Linked DNA regions of Homo sapiens: region 1 is linked to region 2. Evidence: fine-mapped expression QTL. A gene starts in region 2. The other region holds a variant in brackets. All regions are shown on one strand. Distances are from middle to middle.

The links. PIP is the estimated chance that this variant, and not a neighbour inherited with it, causes the effect. A credible set is the group of variants that fine-mapping cannot tell apart.
Region 1: its variant is the best candidate, but not a certain one, in a credible set for the expression of MEA1 in lung (GTEx, PIP 0.58).

What each region holds. Positions count from the first base shown.
Region 1 is chr6:43,101,514-43,112,314 of GRCh38, reverse strand. All of the region lies in intron 1 of PTK7 (protein tyrosine kinase 7 (inactive)), which reads right to left. Among named protein-coding and RNA genes, the nearest start is that of PTK7, 31 kb to the right of the region's middle. The variant G/A (reference allele first, on the strand shown) is at 5,607.
Region 2 is chr6:43,010,097-43,020,897 of GRCh38, reverse strand. It overlaps MEA1 (male-enhanced antigen 1), which reads left to right and starts at 6,952. Exons shown (of 4, transcript NM_014623.4): 1 at 6,952-7,112; 2 at 7,509-7,783; 3 at 7,870-7,972; 4 at 8,277-9,755. The coding sequence starts at 7,085. The coding sequence ends at 8,428. PPP2R5D (protein phosphatase 2 regulatory subunit B'delta) reads right to left here. Exons shown (of 16, transcript NM_006245.4): 13 at 10,329-10,430; 14 at 10,162-10,234; 15 at 9,901-10,017; 16 at 8,556-9,749. The coding sequence ends at 9,612. It overlaps KLHDC3 (kelch domain containing 3), which reads right to left and starts at 6,649. Exons shown (of 11, transcript NM_057161.4): 1 at 6,550-6,649; 2 at 3,552-3,764; 3 at 3,203-3,379; 4 at 2,930-3,045; 5 at 2,682-2,753; 6 at 2,342-2,555; 7 at 2,179-2,265; 8 at 1,927-2,035; 9 at 1,733-1,806; 10 at 1,532-1,610; 11 at 1-231. The coding sequence starts at 3,705. The coding sequence ends at 165. RefSeq lists enhancers at 6,701-6,820, 8,784-9,284 and a silencer at 7,031-7,080.

The DNA of each region.
Region 1 (10,801 bases), 91 kb before region 2:
CCTGGGTGACAGAGGGAGACTACGTCTCTAAATAAATAAATAAATAAATAAATAAATAAATAAATAAATAAAACTGGCTAGCAGCAACACCTGCTCTCTATCCTGCAGAGCCTCTACAAGGATGAAATGCCTCTGGAAAGTTTACAAAACATGTAACTGTAAGGTGCTGGCATACAGTGTAGATGCAGGGTGGAGATGAGGTTAAAAGTTCAGAGACTGGAGTCAGACTACCTGTATTCAAATACACTCCCTCACTTACCAAGAGTATGACCTTGGACAAGCTGTTTATCCTTTCCATGCCTTCATTTTTGTATCTATAAAATGGTGCTAATAGGCCAGGTGCAGTGGCTCACGCCTGTAATCCCAGCACTTTGGGAGGCCAAGGTGGGAGGACTGCTTGAGCTCAGGGGTTCAAGACCAGCCTGGGCAACACAGTAAGACCTCATCTCTACTAAATATTAAAAAAAAAAAAAAAAAGAATTAGCTGGGCATGGTGGTATGCACCTGTGGTCCCAGCTACTCAGGAGACTGAGGTGGGAGGATCACTTGAGACCAGGAGATCAGGTTGAGGCTGCAGTGAGCAATGATCGTGCCACTGCATCCCAGCCTGTGTGACAGAGTGAGACCTGTCTCAAAATAAATAAAATAAAAGATGCAAGTAACAGTACTGGCCTCATAGGCTTGTTGCAAAAAGAAAATTCACATGGTAACAGAGGTAGCAGTGTGAAACAGTGCCTGGCACATAGGAAGTATTATGTGAGTTTGGACTCTTAGCCATTATTTATTGTCATCATTATATTCAGGATTTTTTCATTTTTTAGAACCTGCACTCCATCACAACCATCCCTAAGCCAGCACTGGCCTTTGTCAGCATTCCTCTACACAGACCATTTGGAGATGCTAAGTGCCTGCTTGATTTCCCTCATCCAATCTCTGCTGTAGTGGTTCTCTCTGAACAGACACCCTGAGGTCTGAAGCTCTGTCCCTCAGCTGCCTGATGCTCCACCTGATCACTAAATACAGGTACGTGGGACTCCACAGTTCAAGAGGTGCCACCCTGTGCTGGTGAAGTTCAGAGGGGTAGCTACTGATTGCTGGCAGCTTTGCATTCTGTCTACCTTGGGCACCTCCAGACAATGCTCTGCTTGCATTCCTAATAGGGGTGCAGATTAGCAGTTGCTTATAGTTTCATTTACTTCCCCCAGAAGCTGTTCAAAACAGAAGTACCTTCAGCATGAACCAAAATCAGAGTGAGCCTATCTGGGTGAAAATGGACCCAGTCATCTTGGTATGAAGCAGGCCTCTGGCCTCAAGGAACACAAACAGTTATTAGGTGAAGAGAACACAGTAATGTTCATGCACCAATGAATGCCTAGAGATCACTATTAGACTTCAGCTTTCCGATCCTAGGAGGCCCCGCCAACAGAGGCCTGGAAAGTCTATGCTATCTAAAGGAGAATGCCTGACTACGTAAGATACAAGGTAGAAATGACCGTCAGCAGCAATGACAAGTCAGACAAATGACTTTAAGTAAATGACAGAAGAGGGGTTGCTGGCCTTGATATATGAAAAGTAACAAATCATTCATAAAAACTGTTAAAATTCGGCCAGGCACAGTGGGTCAAACCTGTAATCCCAGCACTTTGGGAGGCCGAGGCGGGTGGATCACCTGAGGACAGGAGCTCAAAACCAGCCTAACATGGTGAAACCCTGTCTCTAATAAAAATACAAAAAAATTAGCCAGGCAAGGTGGCACATGCCTGTAATCCCAGCTACTTGGGAGGCTGAGGCAAGAGAATCGCTTGAACCCAGAGGCGGAGGTTGCAGTGAGCCAAGATTGCGCCACTGTACTCCAGCCTGGGCACTAAGAGCAAAATTCCATCTCAAAAACAAAAACAAAAACAAAACAGCAACAACAACAACAAAAAAAAAACCTGCTAAAATTCTAATAGAAACATGGTCAAGACAATATGAAGAGTTCTCAAAACAAACATAAATGATTAATAAATATAGGAAAATACTCCAGGCCAGGCATGGTGGCTTACACCTGTAATCCCAGCACTTTGGAAAGCTGAGGCAGGCAGATCACGAGGTCAAGAGTTCGAGACCAGCCTGGCCAGCATGTATTTTGTATTCTAAACATACAAAAAATTAGCTGGGCATGGTGTTGCGCGCCTGTAATCCCAGCTACTCAGGAGACTGAGGCAGGAGAATCACTGGAACCTAGGAGACGGAGGTTGCTGTGAGCCAAAATCACGCCACTGCACTCTAGCCTGGGCGATACAGCGAGACTCTGTCTCAAAAAAAAAAAAAAAAAGGCCGGGCATGGTGGCTCACGCCTGTAATCTCAGCACTTTGGGAGGCCGAGGCAGGTGGATCACGAGGTCAGGAAATCGAGATCATCCTGACTAACACGGTGAAACCCCGTCTCTACTAATAATACAAAAAATTAGCCGGGCGTGGTCGTGGGCACCTGTAGTCCCAGCTACTCGGGAGGCTAAGCCAGGAGAATGGTGTGAACCCGGGAGGCAGAGTTTGCAGTGAGCTGAGATCACGCCACTGCACTCCTGCCTGGGTGACAGAGCAAGACTCTGTCTCAAAAAAAAAAAAAAAGAAAATACTCCAATGCACTAGTAATCTAAGAAATGTAAATTAGAACGAGTTCTACCCATCAAATGAAGGCCAAGATTTTAAAAATAACACTCAACGCTGGTAAGCATATGGAGAAAATAGTCCTTCTACTTTGCTGGAGGGAATATAAATTATAATAAATCCCTTCTGGAAAATGTTTGGTAATATTGTACTAATGTTCTAAAAAATTTATGTCCTTTCTCCTTGCAGAATTGGCTGATTCCAGTTCCAGGATAGGAAATGTACAAGAGAAGCCTAGAACTCCATCTTATCATACAAGGAAACAAGCAAAGACTAGCAGGGTCTCATCAAAAGGTCCAGGGGAAAAAAAAGATTCAAGGCCTGCTGGGTATGATGCCATGCTCCTGTAGTCCCAGCTACTTGAGTGGCTCAGGTGGGAGGATTGCTTGAGCCCCGGAGTTCAAGTTCAGCTTGGACAACATAGCAAGACCCTATCTCTTTAAAAAAATAAGATAAATAAAAAGGTTCAGGCTCAGCTTGAAGAGGCTCCCATCAGCCAATGATAGGACCACTTAAGCATTCGTAAGGGTAAGAACCACATGGACTAAAACACATCAAATAGGTTTAAAATCCGTAAGTGTACAGTGATGCTTAACACAAAACACTGAAAGTCTCTCACTGGCCACCTTTGAAGAATGTTAGAAAACCAACTCATTATTTTGAAAATCAGTAAAGAATCAAGCATTTATTTTTCCCTTTCTTGAACAGCTATATCTGTGGGTAACCAAACAGTTAATGAGGGGAGATTGGTGTTTATAGAAGTTTCCAGCTAATAAACAGAATACCATGATTTTACAACCCCCTAATGAAATAATGGATCTAGCAATGATTAGTGATGGCTTCTCATTCCAAACAGACAACCAGATATTGTACCTACTGAGGTACACATAAAGAAAAAACAAAATCAAATCTGAACTTGATGAAGCCTCTACATCTAACTCATTATTGAAAAGTTTAACAAGTCTGGGCACAGTGGCTCATGCCTGGAATCCCAGCACTTTGGGAGGCCGAGGCGGGTGGATCGCTTGAGGCCAGGAGTTCGAGACCAGCCTGGGCAACACGGTAAAACCCCGTCTCTACAAAAATATTACAGAAATTAGCCAGGCATGGTGGTATGCGCCTGTAGTCCCAGCTACTTGGGAGGCTGAGATGGGAGGATCATTTGAACCCAGGAGGTGGAGGCTGCAGTGAGCTGTGCTCGTGCCACTGCACTCCAGCCTGGGCAACAAACTGAGACCCTGTCTTTAAAGGAAAAAAAAAAAAAGGTTGGCCGGGCGCGGTGGCTCATGCCCATAATCCCAGCACTTTGGGAAGCCAAGGCAGGAGGATCACCTGAGGTCAGAAGTTTGTGACCAGCCTGGACAGCATGGGGAAACCCCGTCTCTACTAAAAATACAAAAATTAGCCAGGCATGGTGGCAGGCGCCTGTAGTCCCAGCTACTCAGGAGGCTGAGGCAGGAGAATCGCTTGAACCTGGGAGGCGGAGGTTGCAGTGAGCCAAGATTGCACCATTGCACTCCAGCCTGGGCAACAAGGGCGAGACTGTCTCAAAAAAAAAAAAAAAAAAAGTTAAAGCAGCTTTCTGGAACAAATTTGGAAAACAAGACAGAAGTTAGATAACAATGTGCCACCAACTGAAATAATAATCGTGAACACACATTCTCTTTATCTTCTATTACTCCCGTAAATAACTGTTAAAACCCTAATACCGCTATTTAACATTTCATGTGCTTACAACTCTGTCTTCGCCACTAGATTCTAAGCTTCCTGAGGACAGATGCAGATCTCGCACTTGGTCTCCTCCATGGCAGATGCCTCGCCCGTGAGAGGTGCTCAGGAAATATCGGCCGATTTGTGGTGGTTTTACTGAGCCAGATAATTTGGTCGCATTATCCCAACATGATGTGGAACCAGCAGGGGTCAAAGCCCAATATGGGATCCTGGTAGGCAATTATATTAATTATCATTCTTAATTCAACAATCATTTACTTAGAGCCTACCATGTGCCAAGTACTTCATAAGACACTGGGGACAGAGAGAGAAACACACAATTACTGTCTTTAAGTGTCTCAGTTTAGTAGGAGAGTCAGGCAAGTAAACATATAATTAAAGTAACAGCTACCACTTACTGACCACTTACTGTTCCAAACATTTAACCATATTAACTTGTTATAATGCTAATGCCCATCTGGTAGGGTAGGTACTATGATCCCCATTATGCAGATAAGGAAACGAGACAAAGAAAGGTAAAGCAGTTTGCTAAACATCACACAGCTGATGAGTAACAGATGCCGGCTTCAAATCTCAGGTCTTCTGGCCTGAGGAAAGTCTATCATAACGTGTAGGCTTTGCTGTATTATCACACAGGATGATGGGTGGGTGCAAAGGGCACACAAGAGAAGCATCTAAGTCAGAGTCAGGGGATTAAAAAGTCAGGGAGTCCAGGCGAGGTGGCTCACACCTGTAATCCCAGCACTTTGGGAGGTCGAGGATGGCAGATCACCTTGAGGTCAGGAGTTCGAGACCAGTCTGGCCCACAAGGTGAAAATCCGCCTCTACTAAAAATACAAAAATTAGCCAGGCATGGTGGTGCACACCTATAGTCCCAGCTACTCAGGAGGCTGAGGCAGGAGAATCGCTTTAACCTGGGAGGTGGAGCTTGCAGTGAGCCGAGATGGCGCCACTGCACTCCAGCCTGGGTGACAGAGCAAGACTCTGTCTCAAAAAAAAAAAAAATTCAGGGAAGAGGCTGGGCATGGTGGCTCACACCTGTAATCCCAGCACTTTGGGAGGCCAAGGTGAGGAGAGCACTTTAGGTCAGGAGTTCAAGACAAGCCTGGCCAACATGGTAAAACCCCGTCTGTACTAAAAATACAAAAAATTAGCCGGGTGTCACGCCTGTAATCCCAGTTACTTGGGAGGCCGAGGTTGCCATGAGTCGAGATCACACCACT[G/A]CACTCCAGCCTGGGTGACAGAGCAAGACTCTGTCTCAAAAAAAAAAAAAAAAAAAAAGGCAGGGAGGAATCTTGGAAGGATCTTCAACATAAGGTTTTACGAAGGAAAGGGGCGGGTGTGGTGGCTCATGCCTGCTATAATCTCAGCACTTTGAGCATTCTGGGAGGTCGAGGTGGAGAGATCACTTGAGGCCAGGAGTTCGAGACCAGCCTGGGCAACACAGTAAGACCCCATTATCTAGGCATGGTGGTGCAAGCCTGTAGTCCCAGCCACCTGGGAGGCTGCAACAGGAGGATCCCTTGAGTCCAGGAGGTCAAGGCTGCGGTGAGCTGTGATTGTGCCAGGGCACTCCAGCCTAGGTAATCGAGCAAGACCCTGTCTCAAAAAACAAACAAACAAAAACAAAAAAAGGAACGGGACTTGGCAAATAGAACAAGTCAGAAGCACAAAGACCAGGCATGATCAGAGAACTCTGAGTAATTCAGAATGCTCAGGGTTAAAAGGATGAGGAGAAGGAAGCCCACCAAGAGGCCATTAGAACTCCACTTTGGGGCAAGGAGGCAAAGGAGGTGAAATGCAAACCCACCCTGCTCAGGCTGTCCCCCAACAACAAAAAAAAATCACAACCACAATGAGTCCCTGTTTCCAAGGAGGTGGTTGCTAGGGTAGGAAATGGACTGAAGAAGCTCTTTGTCATGGAGAGAATGGCAGGCGCAGTCACAGAAGGCACGGCTACGGGATAATGCCATACCTGCTCTATCAGTTTCCCAGGGCTGCCATAACAAATTACCACAACTGGGTGGCTTAAAATAACAGAAATTTATCCTCTCGCAGCTCTGGAGGCCAGAGTGCAAAATCAAAGTGTTGGTGAGGTTGGATCCTTCTGGAGGGCACAGAGGGAGAGTCTGTTCCACGCCTCTGTCCTTGCTCCTGGTGGCTGTCAGCAATCCCTGGTGCTCCTTGGCTTGTAGCCACATCACTCCAACCTCAGCCTTCGCTATCACAAGCCGTCTTCCTGTGGTGTACTTCTGTCTCTGGGCCTTTTCTCTTCACATGGGGCGCCACCAGTCATACAGGATTCGTCATTCACCTTAATGAATTGATCTTACCTTGATTATATCTACAGAGACCCTAATTCCAAATAAAGTCATATTCACAGGTACTGAGGCTTAGGACTTCAACATGTATTTTGGGAGGACACAATTCACCCTCTAATATCTGCTATTCTGCAAGTTGCTTTTTTTTTTTTTTTTTTTTGCTATACAGTTAACCACAGATGTCTTTCCATGTCTGTTCATATAATTCGACCTCATTCACTTCAACCACTGTGTATTATTTCACTGTATCAATTACCCATAACCTATTTATCCAATACCCTAATAATGGGCATTCAGATGGTTTTCCTTTTTTTTTTTTCTTTTTGTCATTATGAAGAATATTCTTATTCTCTGTACAGGCATCTATGCACACTGATAATGAGAGGGTTTCTGTAGGATGACTTCCAAAGAGAATGGAAACAAAGAGAATATAATTTCAAGCTTTTGATAAATGACATCCAGCATTATCTCCAGAGAAGTTTTTTTAAAAAAAAAAAAAAGGCTGGGCTTGGTGGCTCATGCCTATAATCCCAGCACTTTGGGAGGCTGTGGCGGGTGGATCACAAGGTCAGGCGATCGAGACCATCCTGGCTAACACGGTGAAACACCGTCTCTACTAAAAATACAAAAATTAGCTGAGCATGGTGGCGGGCACCTGTAATCCCAGCTACTCAAGAGGCTGAGACAGGAGAATGGCATGAACCCAGGAGGCGGAGATTGGAGTGAGCGGAGATCACGCCACTGCACTCCAGCCTGGGCGACAGAGTGAGACTCCGTCTCAAAAAAAAAAAAAAAAAAAAAAGTTGTGCTAATTTACGCTTTCTTAACCAACACTGATGCTTAATATCTTTGTCAACCTGAGAGACATAAAATAATACTTTGTGGCTGGGCATGGAGGCTGACACCTGTAATCCCAGCACTCTGGGAGGCTGAGGTGAGCGGATCACTTCAGGTCAGGAGTTCAAGACCAGCCTGGGCCAACATGGTTTTCACCATGTTGTATTTTGTATTTTCTCTACTAAAAATACAAAAATTAGCTAGGCGTGGTGGCATGTGCCTGTAATCCCAGCTTCTCAGGAGGCTGAGGCAGGAGAATTACTCCCTCCCAGGGGGCAGAGGTTACAATGGGCCTAGCTCACACCATTGTACTCCAGCCTGGGCGACAGAGCAAGAATCCATCTCATAAATAAATAAATAATTTTAAAAAAATACTTTGTTTTAATTAGCATTGTTTCTTCTTAAGAAAATAAAGCAATTTTTCATTTTTAACTGGTTAGCTAAATTTCTCCCCCACCCTCAACCAAGATTTCAATTTAAATTGGTACTTGGGGAACAGAGAATATGAGATATTTTATTGCCCTAAATTTCTTATTGTCCATTTTATGTTCAACTTTGTTGCCTTATTTTCCTTACTGTTACCTTATTATTATTTTGTAATTAATAAGATCAGAAATATAAGATCTGATTTTCTGTATTACATGTGGCACTCACCCTCCCTCCTCCAGAATAGTCATTAAATTACTGAATGACTTATATGTGCCAGGCACTGCTCTAAGTACTAAGAATACAGCAGTGAACAAGACAGTGAAGGTTCCTGTTCCTAATCGTTACTTCACCGAAGAAGAAAAAGTGTTTGCACATGATTTGAGAAAACAGATGGGAGTGAGATTTTCACCCCGGGTGCAGACTTGCCTCAAAATTAATTTAAATACTGTCCTATTTTGATCCATTTGAGAGCCTTCTAGGGAAAATCTACTCTGTTCTCCAGGTGTCCTAGAAGGATTCACCAAAGGAACAGTGTGGTTAGTGAAGGTGGAGCAGGAATAGTTGCCAGACAGCTGTGCCCCTTCCCTGGAGGGAAGAGTCATGCCCCCAGGCACCCAGTGCCTTCAAAGGTTAAGGCTGTGAGTTCAGAGAACAAAGGAAGTTTTAAGGAAGAACAACTCCTCCCCACTCCAGGTAAAGGGGGATGTAACTGAAGCATCACTCCCAGCCTCACTCCACCTCCTTCCATCAGCCCCAAGGTGGGGGGATGTCTGATTGGGCATATTTGACTCCGATCCTTCCTCCTTTCACTTGGGAGTGGGGGGTCTGCTCCACCTGCAGGGAGCACACATTTTTTATAGGTGGCTACACACACACACACACACACACCTGTAATACTCCAGCACTGCTATGACAAGGGAGTAAGTCTGCCTAACTCAAGGATGAATAAGACATTTATCCACTTCAGATTAAAGCCTTGTTGCTTGCTCAACCTAGCCTTTAAAACAAATAAAAGTGATACTCTGATCTCCATCATCCAATCCCTGGTCTGTCTGTTTTTCTCCCTCTCTTTCACCCCCTTCGACTGGTTTTAAACTCAGAAGGGAGAAGGGTATTTACTGGTGCTGTCAATACAGTTTCCATTATAATGGTTTATGCCTGAGCATTTTGTTTTTATTTTTATTGATTCTGTGAATGGATAAATGTTCCTGTTGTATTTTCTAAATGGTTACTTGCTGATAAGCAGCAAACCTTCTGGGTTTTGTGTAGGTTTTGTATTTGCCCAAATGACTCAGTTCTCTCACTGATTGTAGTAGTTTTTCAGTTGATAATTGGGTTTCCCATGTAAAAAAGGTACCTCTGCAAAAAACATGAACTTTATTTAGACTTTCAGTCTTTTTTTTTCCTGTAAGTGACAGGGTCTTGCTTAGTTGTCCAAGCTGCAATCCTCCCACCTCAGCCTCCCAACTAGCTGGGACGATGGGTACACGCCACCTGGCTATATTCTTTCTTATAGCATTATTTCAGCTAAAATAATAATAAATAGTAGTGACTTTATTATTTTAATTTAGTAACTTCATTTTAATGCAAATAGCATTGTATTTCATTTTTAAGTATAATGATGGCTATGTTTGTTTTTTTAATCAGAAATGGATGTTAATTTATATCTAGTGTCATTTTTGCCTCTATTGAGAGAATTGTGTGACACCTTTGCGGTTGGTTTGTTTTTTTTTGGTTTTTTTTTGGTGGGGTAGGGGGAACAAAGTCTTGCTCTGTTGCCCAGGCTGGAATGCAGTGGTAGGATCTCAATGCACCGCAACCTCCACTTCCTGGGTTTAAGCAATTCTCCTGCCCCAGTCTCCCAAGTAGCTGGTATTACAGGGACCCGCCAACACAACCGGCTAATTTTTTTTTTTCTTTGAGACAGAGTCTTGCTCTGTTGCCCAAGCTGGAGTGCAGTGGCACGGCCTTGGCTCACTGCAACCTCCATCTCCCGGGTTCAAGCAATTCTCCTGTCTAAGCCTCCCAAGTAGCTGGGACTACAGGCGCCCGCCACCATGCCCAGCTAATTTTTGGGTTTTTAGTAGAGATGGGGTTTCACTGTATTGGTCGGGCTGGTCTCAAACTCCTGACCTCAGGTGATCCGCCCACCTCGGCCTCCCAAAGTGCTGGGATTACAGGCATGAGCCACCTCACCTGGCCAAGAGATGCTCCCAAGAACGGGCTGGAACCACCCACCTCCAGAGTTGGAGGCAAGCACACCAATCAACTGCAAGACACAGAGGGTCAAGTGGCACTCTGTATTTTTTTTAGTAGAAACGGGGTCTCACCATGTTGGCCAGGCTGGTCTCAAACTCCTGACCTCAGATGATCTGCCCGCCTCGGCCTCCCAAAGTGCTGGGATTACAGGCGTGAACCACCACGCCCAGCCACCTCTGACGTCTTATGTTGATGAGTTATAAAGGGTAAGCCACCCATGCATTTTTGGGAATACATCCTTTACTTGTTTATGGCACATTACCGTTTATCATAGTGTTAGATTTAATTTTCAAGTATTCTATATTAGACTTTTACACCAACGTTTCTAAGTAGTGTGGTTTTCTGCACTGTCAGCATTTGAGAACAAAGCTATATCAACTTTGTGACACACACAGGCTGTTGTCCATCTGTTCCTTGGCTCTGTGACAGTCTCTACAAAGCATTTACAGGCTCTACTTCTTCAACATTTTTCAAAATTTTCCCTCAAAACTATTTGATACAACTATCTTTCTTTTTTTTTTTATTTTTTTTTTTGAGACGGAGTCTTGCTCTGTGACCCAGGCTGGAGTGCA
Region 2 (10,801 bases):
CTACAGCTCCCCACTGAATTCACAGCACAGAGAACACCTCTCGCCCAACAACTCCACATGGAGGTATACCAAGTCCAGGGGTCAAAGGAGCAGGTGGGTGACAGATGGGCAGGGGCAGTGAAGATGACAGCAGGCTCAGGAGGGGAGGTGGCAGAAACTTCCTCCTACCCATGGGAGGAGACGATGGGGCGACTGATATTGCTGTTGGTGGTCATGGCATTCAGCTCCCACCTGGAAGGCCAACAATAAGAGACAGAAAGAAGAGGGGGCCCTCAGCCCAAGCTAAGGGATGTTTGAACCAAGCTAAAAACACACCAGTCTCTCCAACTTCCTAAAGGTCAACCACCCACAGCCACCTCTTACTTAAGAGACCTACTAGGTTGAACAATCAGAACCCACCCACCACCAAATCCAACACCACCCACTCCTCTACCTCCAAGCTCATATGGATTTCCGGTTTATGTTTATGTATGTATGTATATTGCAGTGTCCAGGCACCTGAGATCTGTGTATACATGTCAGTCAACATCCCAACCTGCCTTTCCTGCTTTGCTTAGAGCCAACCAGGCAGCCCCTCCACCTTACCCTCACCAGGAATGCCTCACCCCACCAGGAATACCCATTTTTGCTCTTAACTCCCATCCTTTTAAGGCTCTGACTCAGCACTCCTATCCTTCCTGAGGCCTTCCCCACCCACCCAACCATATTAATTTTTTTTTTGAGTCTTGTTCTGTCACCTAGGCTGGAGTACAGTGGTGCAGTGGCACAATCTTGACTCACTGAAACCCCCGCCTCCCGGGTTCAAGCAATTCTCTTGCCTCAACCTCCCAAGTAGCTGGGACTACTGGTGGCTGCCACTATGCCCAGCTAATTTTTGTATTTTTAGTATAGACAGGGCTTCACCATGTGGCCAGGATGGTCTCGAACTCCTGACCTCAACTGATTTGCCCACCTCAACCTCCCGAAGTGATGGGATTACAGGTATGAGCCACCATGCCCAGCCAGCAAGAGTTAAACTGAACTGATACAAAGAGACGAAGTATCTCAGAATGACCCAGACAGGAAAAATTATATACAAAGTAACATCTGGTGGTTAATTTGAACCTGAAAAATTATACATAAAGTAACATCTGGTGGTTAATTGGAACCTAAGAACGAAATTCAAAGGGAAGCAGCCAGATCTTCTGGAACCAATGTGATCCAGAGGCTCCTAAACTTGTCTTTACTTTGCAGCTAGGTTCTAAGATTTAATCAGTTGTTCTCAGCATGGTCACAAAAATAACTGTATAAGCTTAGGTCTCAGAAAGTGATGCTGCCGAGCTGTATTTTTTTTTCATATAATTTATTCTGCTGACAGTTTTATATGATGGCTGTCAATTCACCTCCTTCCATCTCATTTCCCACAAGTACACTACATCTCCAGCAGAACAAAAATGTCTGTCTCCTCCATACTGAAACCAAGCTAATCAGGTCACACCTGTGCTGCTCACTCACCCTCACTCAATCCCTCCCTTCCAACCACTCGCTGTACCTGATATCATGAGGCAAACAGGACTGGTCTAGGTTATACTGAATCACGGCCAGTTTGCACAGAGTCTTCAGACTAGGGCCTTTAAGGGAGAAGTTGTGGAAAGGAGATGGTCAAAGGTGAGGAAAGGATCCAGTCCTGGATATCACCACCCAAAGACAGGGACCTTGATGGCAGGAGCAATTCAGGAATAACTATACTTACTAAAGTCCAAAATGTGTAAGTCAGAATGATCTATAAGGTCAAATTCATCTCCCAGGCCTTCCTCAGGAGATGGACTGTCGGGATCAAAAGAGAGATGAAAGTAGGACAAAAACTACCCACGAAACCCCCTTTTCAAATACCTCCCACTCTCCCATTAGTGACTTCCCTGAGCCCCTTCCCTCTCTCCTTCTAACCTGGTACCCCCAAAGAGGACAATCTTGTCACCAACAATACAGCAGCACTGGCGCCGGCGGGGACATGGCCCCTTCCCCTTCGGTTCAATCTTTTTCCAGGTAAAGGACACTGAAGAGAAATTTATATGGAAGTTCAATACCTGCCTAGTCCAGGTATCTTCCCCACCCCCATCCCTCACCGCCTCAGGATTATTTTCTTTTCCTCCCACCTCAATTGCTCCTTGTTCCTGCCCTAAATGCAGTGCTCTTTACCAGGATTAAACTTCCAGAGGTCATGGAAGTGCCGGTTCAGCCTTGCATTATAACCACCAAAGATGTACAGCTCCCCATTGTAGCCAACTGGAAGGAGAGAGGAAGTGTCAGGAGTGTGAAGAGGGCAGGAAGGGAACTCCACAGGGAAGTAACAAACACTCACAGGCCGAGTGGCTCCGGCGCCCCTCAGGCAGCACTGGAGTCGGGGGACAGTCCAGCCAAGCCTCAGTTCTGGTGTCAAAGACTCGAATGCGGTTGCAGTAAATCTCATTGTTGGAATGGAATGGCCCAAAGCGGTCGGCACGGCCCCCAAAGACATACATGTGACTTCCCAGCATTGTGGCTGAGTGGAAGTCCCTCCAGCGTGCAGGGCTGCCCTGGGCAGAGGCAGAGAGATGGTGGAGGGGTCAGCACAAAGACTGGAAGAGGATCTCCTCTGACTGAGCTTCCTATCATTGCTTCAACAGAGGGTGGGGATTTGGGAAAAAAAAGAAAGAGCAGACCTTTGTACAGATAAGAGTCCATGTCATGGTGCTGGTATCTAGCTTGTGAATGTCATTGGAAAAACAGTCCGCCTGAGTAGGAAGAGAAAAGGAGGAAGAAAAGAGGGAGCCAATGGTCACTCTCTGACCCTCCATCCCTCCCCTCAAAACCTGCAAACAAGCCAAAGCCTCCCATTTCACCATCCTAAATTGCCCTTCCCCTCTTTCTCAGTCCCACCCTAAACCTCTTATTTTATTCCCAGACCTACCTGCTGCTCGTAGCCCCCAAAAATGTACATGATCTTGCCTAGGACACAGGCTGAATGTCCATCCCGGGCCCCAGGAACTGTCCCTGACACTCGGGGTGTGAACCACTTGTGCGTATCTGAAGGAGATGAGAAAATGGCTCAACTAAGCACCCTCTATGACAGTCCCTCCTCAGCTCTGGGGTACTCTACTCCCCAAGACCCCCAACCCAAACCTTTCTTGGGCAACTGAGGCAACATCTGGAAGGACATAGCCTCTCTGAGATCCATACTCACTGACGTCAAAGGCATAGAGCACATTGCAGGCCCCTTCGGTGTCATTCCGCCCGCCCCAAAGGAGGACTGTGTCGTCGATGAGGACGGTTGAGTGTCCATAGCGCATGTAGGGTACCACAGGAGCTTGCCCACGGATGGCAGACTTCACCGGGGGCAGCTTTGTCCAACGCAAGGACACTGTGGGCACAGCTCTGCTCAGCCCTGGGAACCTCCCTCCAGGCTGTCCACTTTTCCCAAACCAGATGTTTGTCCCCAATCCCCTTGGTCCCAGAGACCACAGCCAAACCTCATCAGCAGCCCGTTCCCACCCTGATGTGGGGACCCAGGGACAGCCCCAGCATTGGCTTACCTGCATTGAAAATGTGCACATCTATCTGACGCAGTGTCTCATAGTCTTCACCAGAGCAGTAACCCCCGAAGGAGTATACCCGATGCCCGACAGCCACTGCAGCATGGTTCACCCTGCGGGGCCCGCCCTCCAGGTGCACTGTCCACCGTAACATCCCCTGGGCCACTGGTTACAGCAACATGCCCCCCCGGCACGGCCTGCTGCCTCTGCTATCTGCACACAAATTGGGGCCACGGGATCCTCAGGCGAGGCTTCTGCCCAGCTCACTGTGACTCTGCCCAGAACCAGCCTTTGCCTCCAAGTGTCACCCTGGGGGCCCTCCCACACTACCCCTCCACAGGGGCACTAGTCTCAGCTCAGGTGGCTGGCCCTGCCCCAAGGGAGCTGCCGAGGTCAGGGAGCAGCCTGGGCCCAGTGTTCTCCAACAGTGAAGGGTGGGGCCACCCCCACCTGATTGCCAGCTCAGAATCTGCATATCATGGTCACAACCTACTCGTGGAGGCTCCACTCTGTCCCTGGCTTGGCACAAACTTGAAGCCCCCTTCCCAAACGGTATATTCTCTTGTCTCTGCTCTGCTTACTGCCACCTCTCTAAGAATCTGTGTTCTTTGAGGTGGGGAAAGGGATCTCAAAATACTCACAGCTATTAATAGCCCAGCCAGCCTCAAACAGTCCATTGAAAGCTGGCATGAGTGCCTCAAAGCAGAAAAGCTTTCAGGCTTTTAGAGTGGAACAATCCCCCTACCCAAGATAGGGCGGGACTGATCCAGGACAGGGACCTCCATGTTACCGCGGTTGGTTAGCCCCTCACAGGGAGCTCCTGTCAAGCTGAGTTGTTGTCATTGGGGTCACCCAGGGCCCCCCACAGGCACAAGGAGTTCCTTTGACAGCTGTGCCTGGTATGCTGCCAGGACTTAAGCCAGAAAGGTATGTGTATGCTTAGGCTTGGGGGATGGTGATAGAGGGAGGGGTTTTCTCCTCCTGCCACTTCCCCATCCCTGCTACTGTGGTAGAGAACAAGCCATTTCCAGTAGAAAAGAGAGAACAAGCTCTTCCACAACTTGGGTTCCTGAAAGGCGGATAGAGGTGGGAGTGTGCAATGCAAAGGGGAAGGGGCTGGGCACAGTGGCTCACACCTGTAATCCCAGCACCCTGAGAGGCCGAGGCAGGTGGATCACGAGATCAAGAGACGGAGACCATCCTGGCCAACATGGTGAAACCCGTCTCTACTAAAAATACAAAAATTAGCTGGGCACGGTGGCGCGCACCTGTAGTCCCAGCTACTCAGGAGGCTGAGGCAGGAGAATTGCTTGCACTCGGGTGGCGGAGGTTGGAGTGAGCCGAGATCACACCACTGCACTCCAGTCTGGCGACAGAGCGAGACTCTGTCTCAAAACAAAAAAAAAGGGGAAGGGAGGCAAAAAATGCCCTTGGGCAGGACAAGAGAAAGATCCAGCATGAGAAGTCATGGTCTTTTTTTTTTTTTTTTTTTTTAGATGAAGTCTCGCTCTTGCCCCCAGGCTGGAGCGCAATGGTGCAATCTCAGCTCACTGCAAACTCTGCCTCCCTCCCGGGTTCAAGCGATTCTCCTGCCTCAGCCTCCCAAGTAGCTGGGATTACAGGCGCCTGCCACCATGCCCAGCTAATTTTTGTATTTTTAGTAGAGATGGGGTCTCACTATGTTGGCCAGGCTGGTCTCAAACTCCTGACCTCAGGTGATCCACCGTCCTCGGTCTCCTGAAGTGCTGGGATTACAGGCGTGAGCCACCATGCCCAGCTGGTCATGGTCTCTTAAACACAACCTGTCAACCTAGTGGCACGTACACCTGGGTACATCTGAGGTTTTTTCAGGCAAATCCTTGCAACTGACAATGCTTTTGCTGGCAAGCATCTCCTGAGTTTGGGTGTATCATCATCTGCTCCCTGTTTAAGAAGCCCTGGCAGAGGAAAGGGCCAGGCAAAACCTCAGGCACTAAAACAGCTCAAATAAGGGAGGCCCCTTGCAGGAAAGAGACATGGCTTTCAGCTGGCTTGCTAGTCCCACCCACCCAACCTCCCCCAACTCCACACCCTAAGCTTTAAATAGCCATGGGACCCATCCTGAAATAGCCCCAGCAGGAAGCTACTCTCACTTCATTACTCCCGCTCTCCAAAATATCTTGGGTCTGGGCTTGTGGAGACTGTTAGGAGGTCGATGGGCTTAAGAATGGAAGTCTTCCATCCTCCCTTATATTCTCTATTCTTCCCTTCAGATATGTCAAGGTAAAGTAAAATATGCACAGGAGAGGAGATAAGCAATTCCAGCCAAAGGTGGAGAAAAAAAATTTTAGTTTCTCTGCCATATAAACAACTCAAATTCAAGGAGAACAAGCCCCCAGGCGCTCAGGGGCTCCTCTTATCCCTGGGTCTCCCCAGTCCTCCATCACCACCAAGCATTTTCAAACTTCTTCTATTCCCTTAATGTATCTACCCGCCTGGTCTCTTGCATTTTTTATTCCCCATTTCTCGCCCTTCTTGATCTCGTGAGAGCTTTGCAGTTTTCTCATTTTTCCTTCTCCTACCATTCCAAGCTCCACCCAACAGCCCTCCATTTTCCCACCTCCACTAAGGAAAGAAAAATTAGCATGCACTGACCACGATACCCCTCTCTGCATATGACTCTATCCCTGTCTTCTTCCAGACATTCCGGCCTCCCCTAGCCCACCACGCCAGACACCCCTCCCCTTCCATTATGCTCAGCTTCCCTGTTTTCATGGCCCAGTCTTCCTTCCCATTTCCTTCATTGCTTCCTCCAGACACCAGGTCTCTCCTACCCATCTCCTCGCCATCCTCCCCTAGCCCTGCTTTCCCCATTAACACTCTCCTTTCCCATCATCCCCCTAGCTCCCTCCCCACCCCCACCTCATCACTCTCAGGCCCCTCCCCCGCCACTCCAGCTCCAGACAGCACGTCCTAAGCCCCCTAATTCTCCCTTGCCCTTCTACCCATCCCAGGCTACCTGCCAGGCCGAGCCGGGGCGGGGCCGCGGGTCCTCGAGCTGCCTGCAGCCTAGAACCCGTTGCGCGCCAACCGACGCCTTAGTCCCCAACGAGATAAACACAGCCAAGCTCGGTTCTTCCGGCGGGCAGCTGTGCGCGCACGTGCAGTCGTAGCTAAGTGCCGGAGGCATTTCGGGACTTGTAGTCCATACGTTTCCTGAGGGACGAGAGGGCTGAGGAGTGGGCAGGGGCGTAGGAGAGATTCTGCGCATGTGCAAATATGTGTCGAGACCGAGGAGGCCACTGGGTAATGCAGTCCTTTGTTTTTTGGGCTGGGAATGACGGAGGCGGGGCAAGGGGCGGACTCCTCGTCCTCGCCAGCGTCAATCATGGATATGGGGCGGGGCTGGAGGACTAGGCACCTCTGCACGTCCTGCCCCGCCGGAAGTGGAGGCCGCGGGCTCTGAGCGGGTGAGGCGCGCGGGAACACCGGCGCCGGGATTCGGATGGGGGCGGGTGGGGGACGCTGCAGCTGGGGCCATTTGAGGGGAGCCCATGGGGCCTGAAAGGCATCTGTCAGGCGGTACAGAGGGGGTCCTCTAGGAGAGGGGAGAAGGGGGCGGGTACGCCGACCTGTTTAGGGGAGTCTGATGACCCAGAGTTCCCAAGTCGCGGGGGAGGCGTGGCGCGGGGAGCCGGGGTTCTGGAAGGGGTGTCTTTTAGGAGGTGGCAGGGCCTCCGGTTGGGCGTTTAACTAGGAAGTGGCGGAGCAAGTTGGTGGGGCCTGGTTCAAGATAAGAACCCCGACTTAGGAGGGGGAGGAACGAGAGGCTGGAATTGGGGCGGAGGGGTGGAGGATGCAGGAGCCTCGGGGAGGAGCTGGTTTTTTGCACGCAGGAGACTACAAGGAGATGATGAGAGGATGAAGATGGGCCTGGTTTCATCCGATCCCTGTCCTACCGCCTCCCTGTTCTTGCAGCCCCTGCCCGGATGGCAACAGTAGTTCTAGGAGGAGACACCATGGGCCCTGAGCGTATCTTCCCCAATCAGACTGAGGAACTGGGACATCAGGGCCCTTCAGAAGGCACTGGGGATTGGAGCAGTGAGGAGCCTGAGGAAGAGCAGGAGGAAACGGGGTCGGGCCCAGCTGGCTACTCCTACCAGCCCCTGAACCAAGATCCTGAACAAGAGGAGGTGGAACTGGCACCAGTGGGGGATGGAGATGTAGTTGCTGACATCCAGGATCGAATCCAGGTAGGGTGGAGGAGGGATGGTTCCTGAACAGGTGAAGCTGGGCTCCCTGAAAGCCTAGACCCAAACGGTCTTCTGTGGCTCTGCAGGCCCTGGGGCTTCATTTGCCAGACCCACCATTAGAGAGTGAAGATGAAGATGAGGAGGGAGCTACAGCGTTGAACAACCACAGCTCTATTCCCATGGACCCAGGTAAAAGATCATTCTTTCATTCTGGAATAATTACTAAGGAAATGAACTGGCATGAGTCAGTAGAAGGAAGTTTCAGAGGAAGACCCTATCCTAAAAAGATAGTTTGTAAACTAAGATTTTGTAGACTTCAGAGTCCAAGTGAAATGCTCTTTTGCTAGCTTTGGGGATGGGCAGGCTTGCCTTAAAGTAACAAGGTGGATTTGGTGACCCTAGCAGCCCAAGGGCTCTGGGTTGATTCGGGGATTGGGGAGGGGAGCTGGTCCCATTATTTCTATGCCTGAATGGCCTCTGGCTCTGATTTCAGAACATGTAGAGCTGGTGAAAAGGACAATGGCTGGAGTAAGCCTGCCTGCGCCAGGGGTTCCTGCCTGGGCTCGGGAGATATCGGATGCCCAGTGGGAAGATGTGGTACAGAAAGCCCTCCAAGCCCGGCAGGCATCCCCTGCCTGGAAGTGACCACAGTGAGAGCTGCCTTATATTCCTACATTCCAGGCCAGAACCAGCACAGGACTGAACACATCCCTGGTTGTAATGTCCATTTCCATCTTCCCCGTCTCCCTTTCCACATCAAGGCACATCAGACTTCTCAGAGACCCACTTTATTCAGTTCTGTACATATGGGGACATCGGTCCAAGCCCAACCCACCTTAGCATGTATCACTCTGTGGAGAATAAAGCACCCTATGTACACAGCCAAAAGCCGCACTGCCTGCGCCCCTGGAACCTGGGTCCGGCCTTCCTCAGCCCCTGGCCCCTCCAAGGTACCTATAAGGGACAAGAGAAGGCCTGCCCAGCATAGCACAAACAAGGAAATAAATAGGTGTTGGCAGGAGCCATGCTTGGGGCACCGCTCCCTGCTTCCTTCTTTCTAGTTTTGGGAACCAACAGCACAGAAAAGCAGTCAGCCCCAGGGTGGTCCCTTCCATGTCTGTGACCCCAGGGCTGCTGCTCACCAAAGACAGGGCACGGGGTAGGGTGTTTATTCATCCCTCCCCGGCCCCACTTGGTCCATCTGGGCCCTATATTCATCAGTTATTGTCCACAGCCTATACTTTTCTCCTTTTGACCTCCCTTGGTCAGGCATGGGGTAAGAAGAAATAATACAACCCTATCTGCCAGCACACGGCTGGGACTGGGGGGCCTATTTGTGCTGCAGGGGGGTTGGCTTCCCTTCAGCTACTCTGGGACCAATGGGGCTTGACATAACTTTGGTGAGAATAATCTCCTGCTGTTCCCTACATGCCTCTGCAGGGGAGAGAGAGGAGGGGAGATACCTGGCGTTCAAATGAGGATGAAGGGAAGAATAGAGGAGCGTATGTATTCCTGTGTGTACTTCTCAGAGCAGCCTCAGGTAGCTGTGGGTGAGGAGCAGGTAGGGGACAGGCATCCCCAGGTTGTCTGAGCACTAAGCATCTTAGTGCTCAGCCTGTACTAGCCACAGGGAGGCATGAACACCTTTTGGGGAGAAGAGGGACCATTCTGTGGGTGTCCCTGCTTCAAGTGCCCACATCCCCCTCCCTTGAGTAGCTAGAGAGGCGCTGCCTTCCCCCAAGACAGCCAGTAGGGAGCAGAGTATGGAGGGCCAGGGCAGTGTCCCAGGGCTGTGTGGGCTGTGGCCCTGTGGTAGGAACGTGAGGGGTCAGAGAGCCTCCTGGCTGGCAGTTAGGAACTCTTCCGCCCGCTTGTGCGCCTCCAGTGCCTTGATGGTGTACACGTCCTGGGGCAGCTCCGACTTCCTCCGCAGCAGCACTTTCTCCTTCTTGATGTCTTTTAGCATCTGTGTGTGAATAGGGACAAGGTGAGGAATGGTGACCAATTCCCAGTGAATTCTATTGTTCCGTCCCCTTATTCTTTGGCTCTGCTGTTTCTGTCTCCTCTCCCTTCCAGAGCTATTATTTCTGCTCCATCCCCCTACATTGCCCTCCCACCTGAACAGCCTCAGTCTCCACAGTCCTCTTCAGAAGCTGGATGTCCTCAGCTGTGGGGGTCTCTGTCTCCATCGAGTACACAGGGGGCAGTGGTGGAGGGGCTCGGAACATGGGATACTGAGTGAGGAGACATGGACAAGCGTTAAGAGCCACTTCAGAGGCTTGGGGGCCTGTGTGCCCCATATTCCTCCCCCAACAAACTCTCCCCCAGCTCAAGATGGGCTGGCCCCTCAGTTCACAACAGTGGCAGGAAAACCTCACCTGGGGATTAAGCCGGGCCAGCTCCTCGATTTTTTGCCACATCTCTTCCCTTTCCTTCATTCGGAACCGGCCCCTGAGGAGCAAAAGTAGGATTGGGGTTGGGCTTGAGAGAAACACAGTGAGCTGGTGGTAGAAGATGAAAGTCTCCCGGGGAGAGAGATACTCACTTCTGCTTCTCTGCCTTGTATTGTTGTGTGCAGTCATCAAACAGCTTCTGATTCATTTCCATAAACAACTTCAGGGCATTATAGATCAGTCCATGGATTGTCCTGCCACCAAGAAGAAAGATGAGGTGTAGGAGGCCAGAGCCTGCCCTTAGCGTGAGGAACCCAATTTGTTCTCTCACAGGGGTATCTCTGCTAAGAGCTTTGTCATTTACTACTTCCAGTTCACAAACCTCTGTGCAGTATCAGAAGAGAGCTCTGGCCAAATCACCTGGTTTGAGACTGGCATTTCATGGTTTTCACAAATATCGGTCCACCTGTCCATCCTTCCCTCACCCCATGCTCCAAGGCCTGCCTACCTCCCATCCTTTCCCACTCTAACCCACACTAATGGCCTCCCAGCAGCATGATGGGCATGTAGATGCAGCATGACAGACTGCATCTACACCACAGTGTGCTTGCTTTTAGCAGAAAAG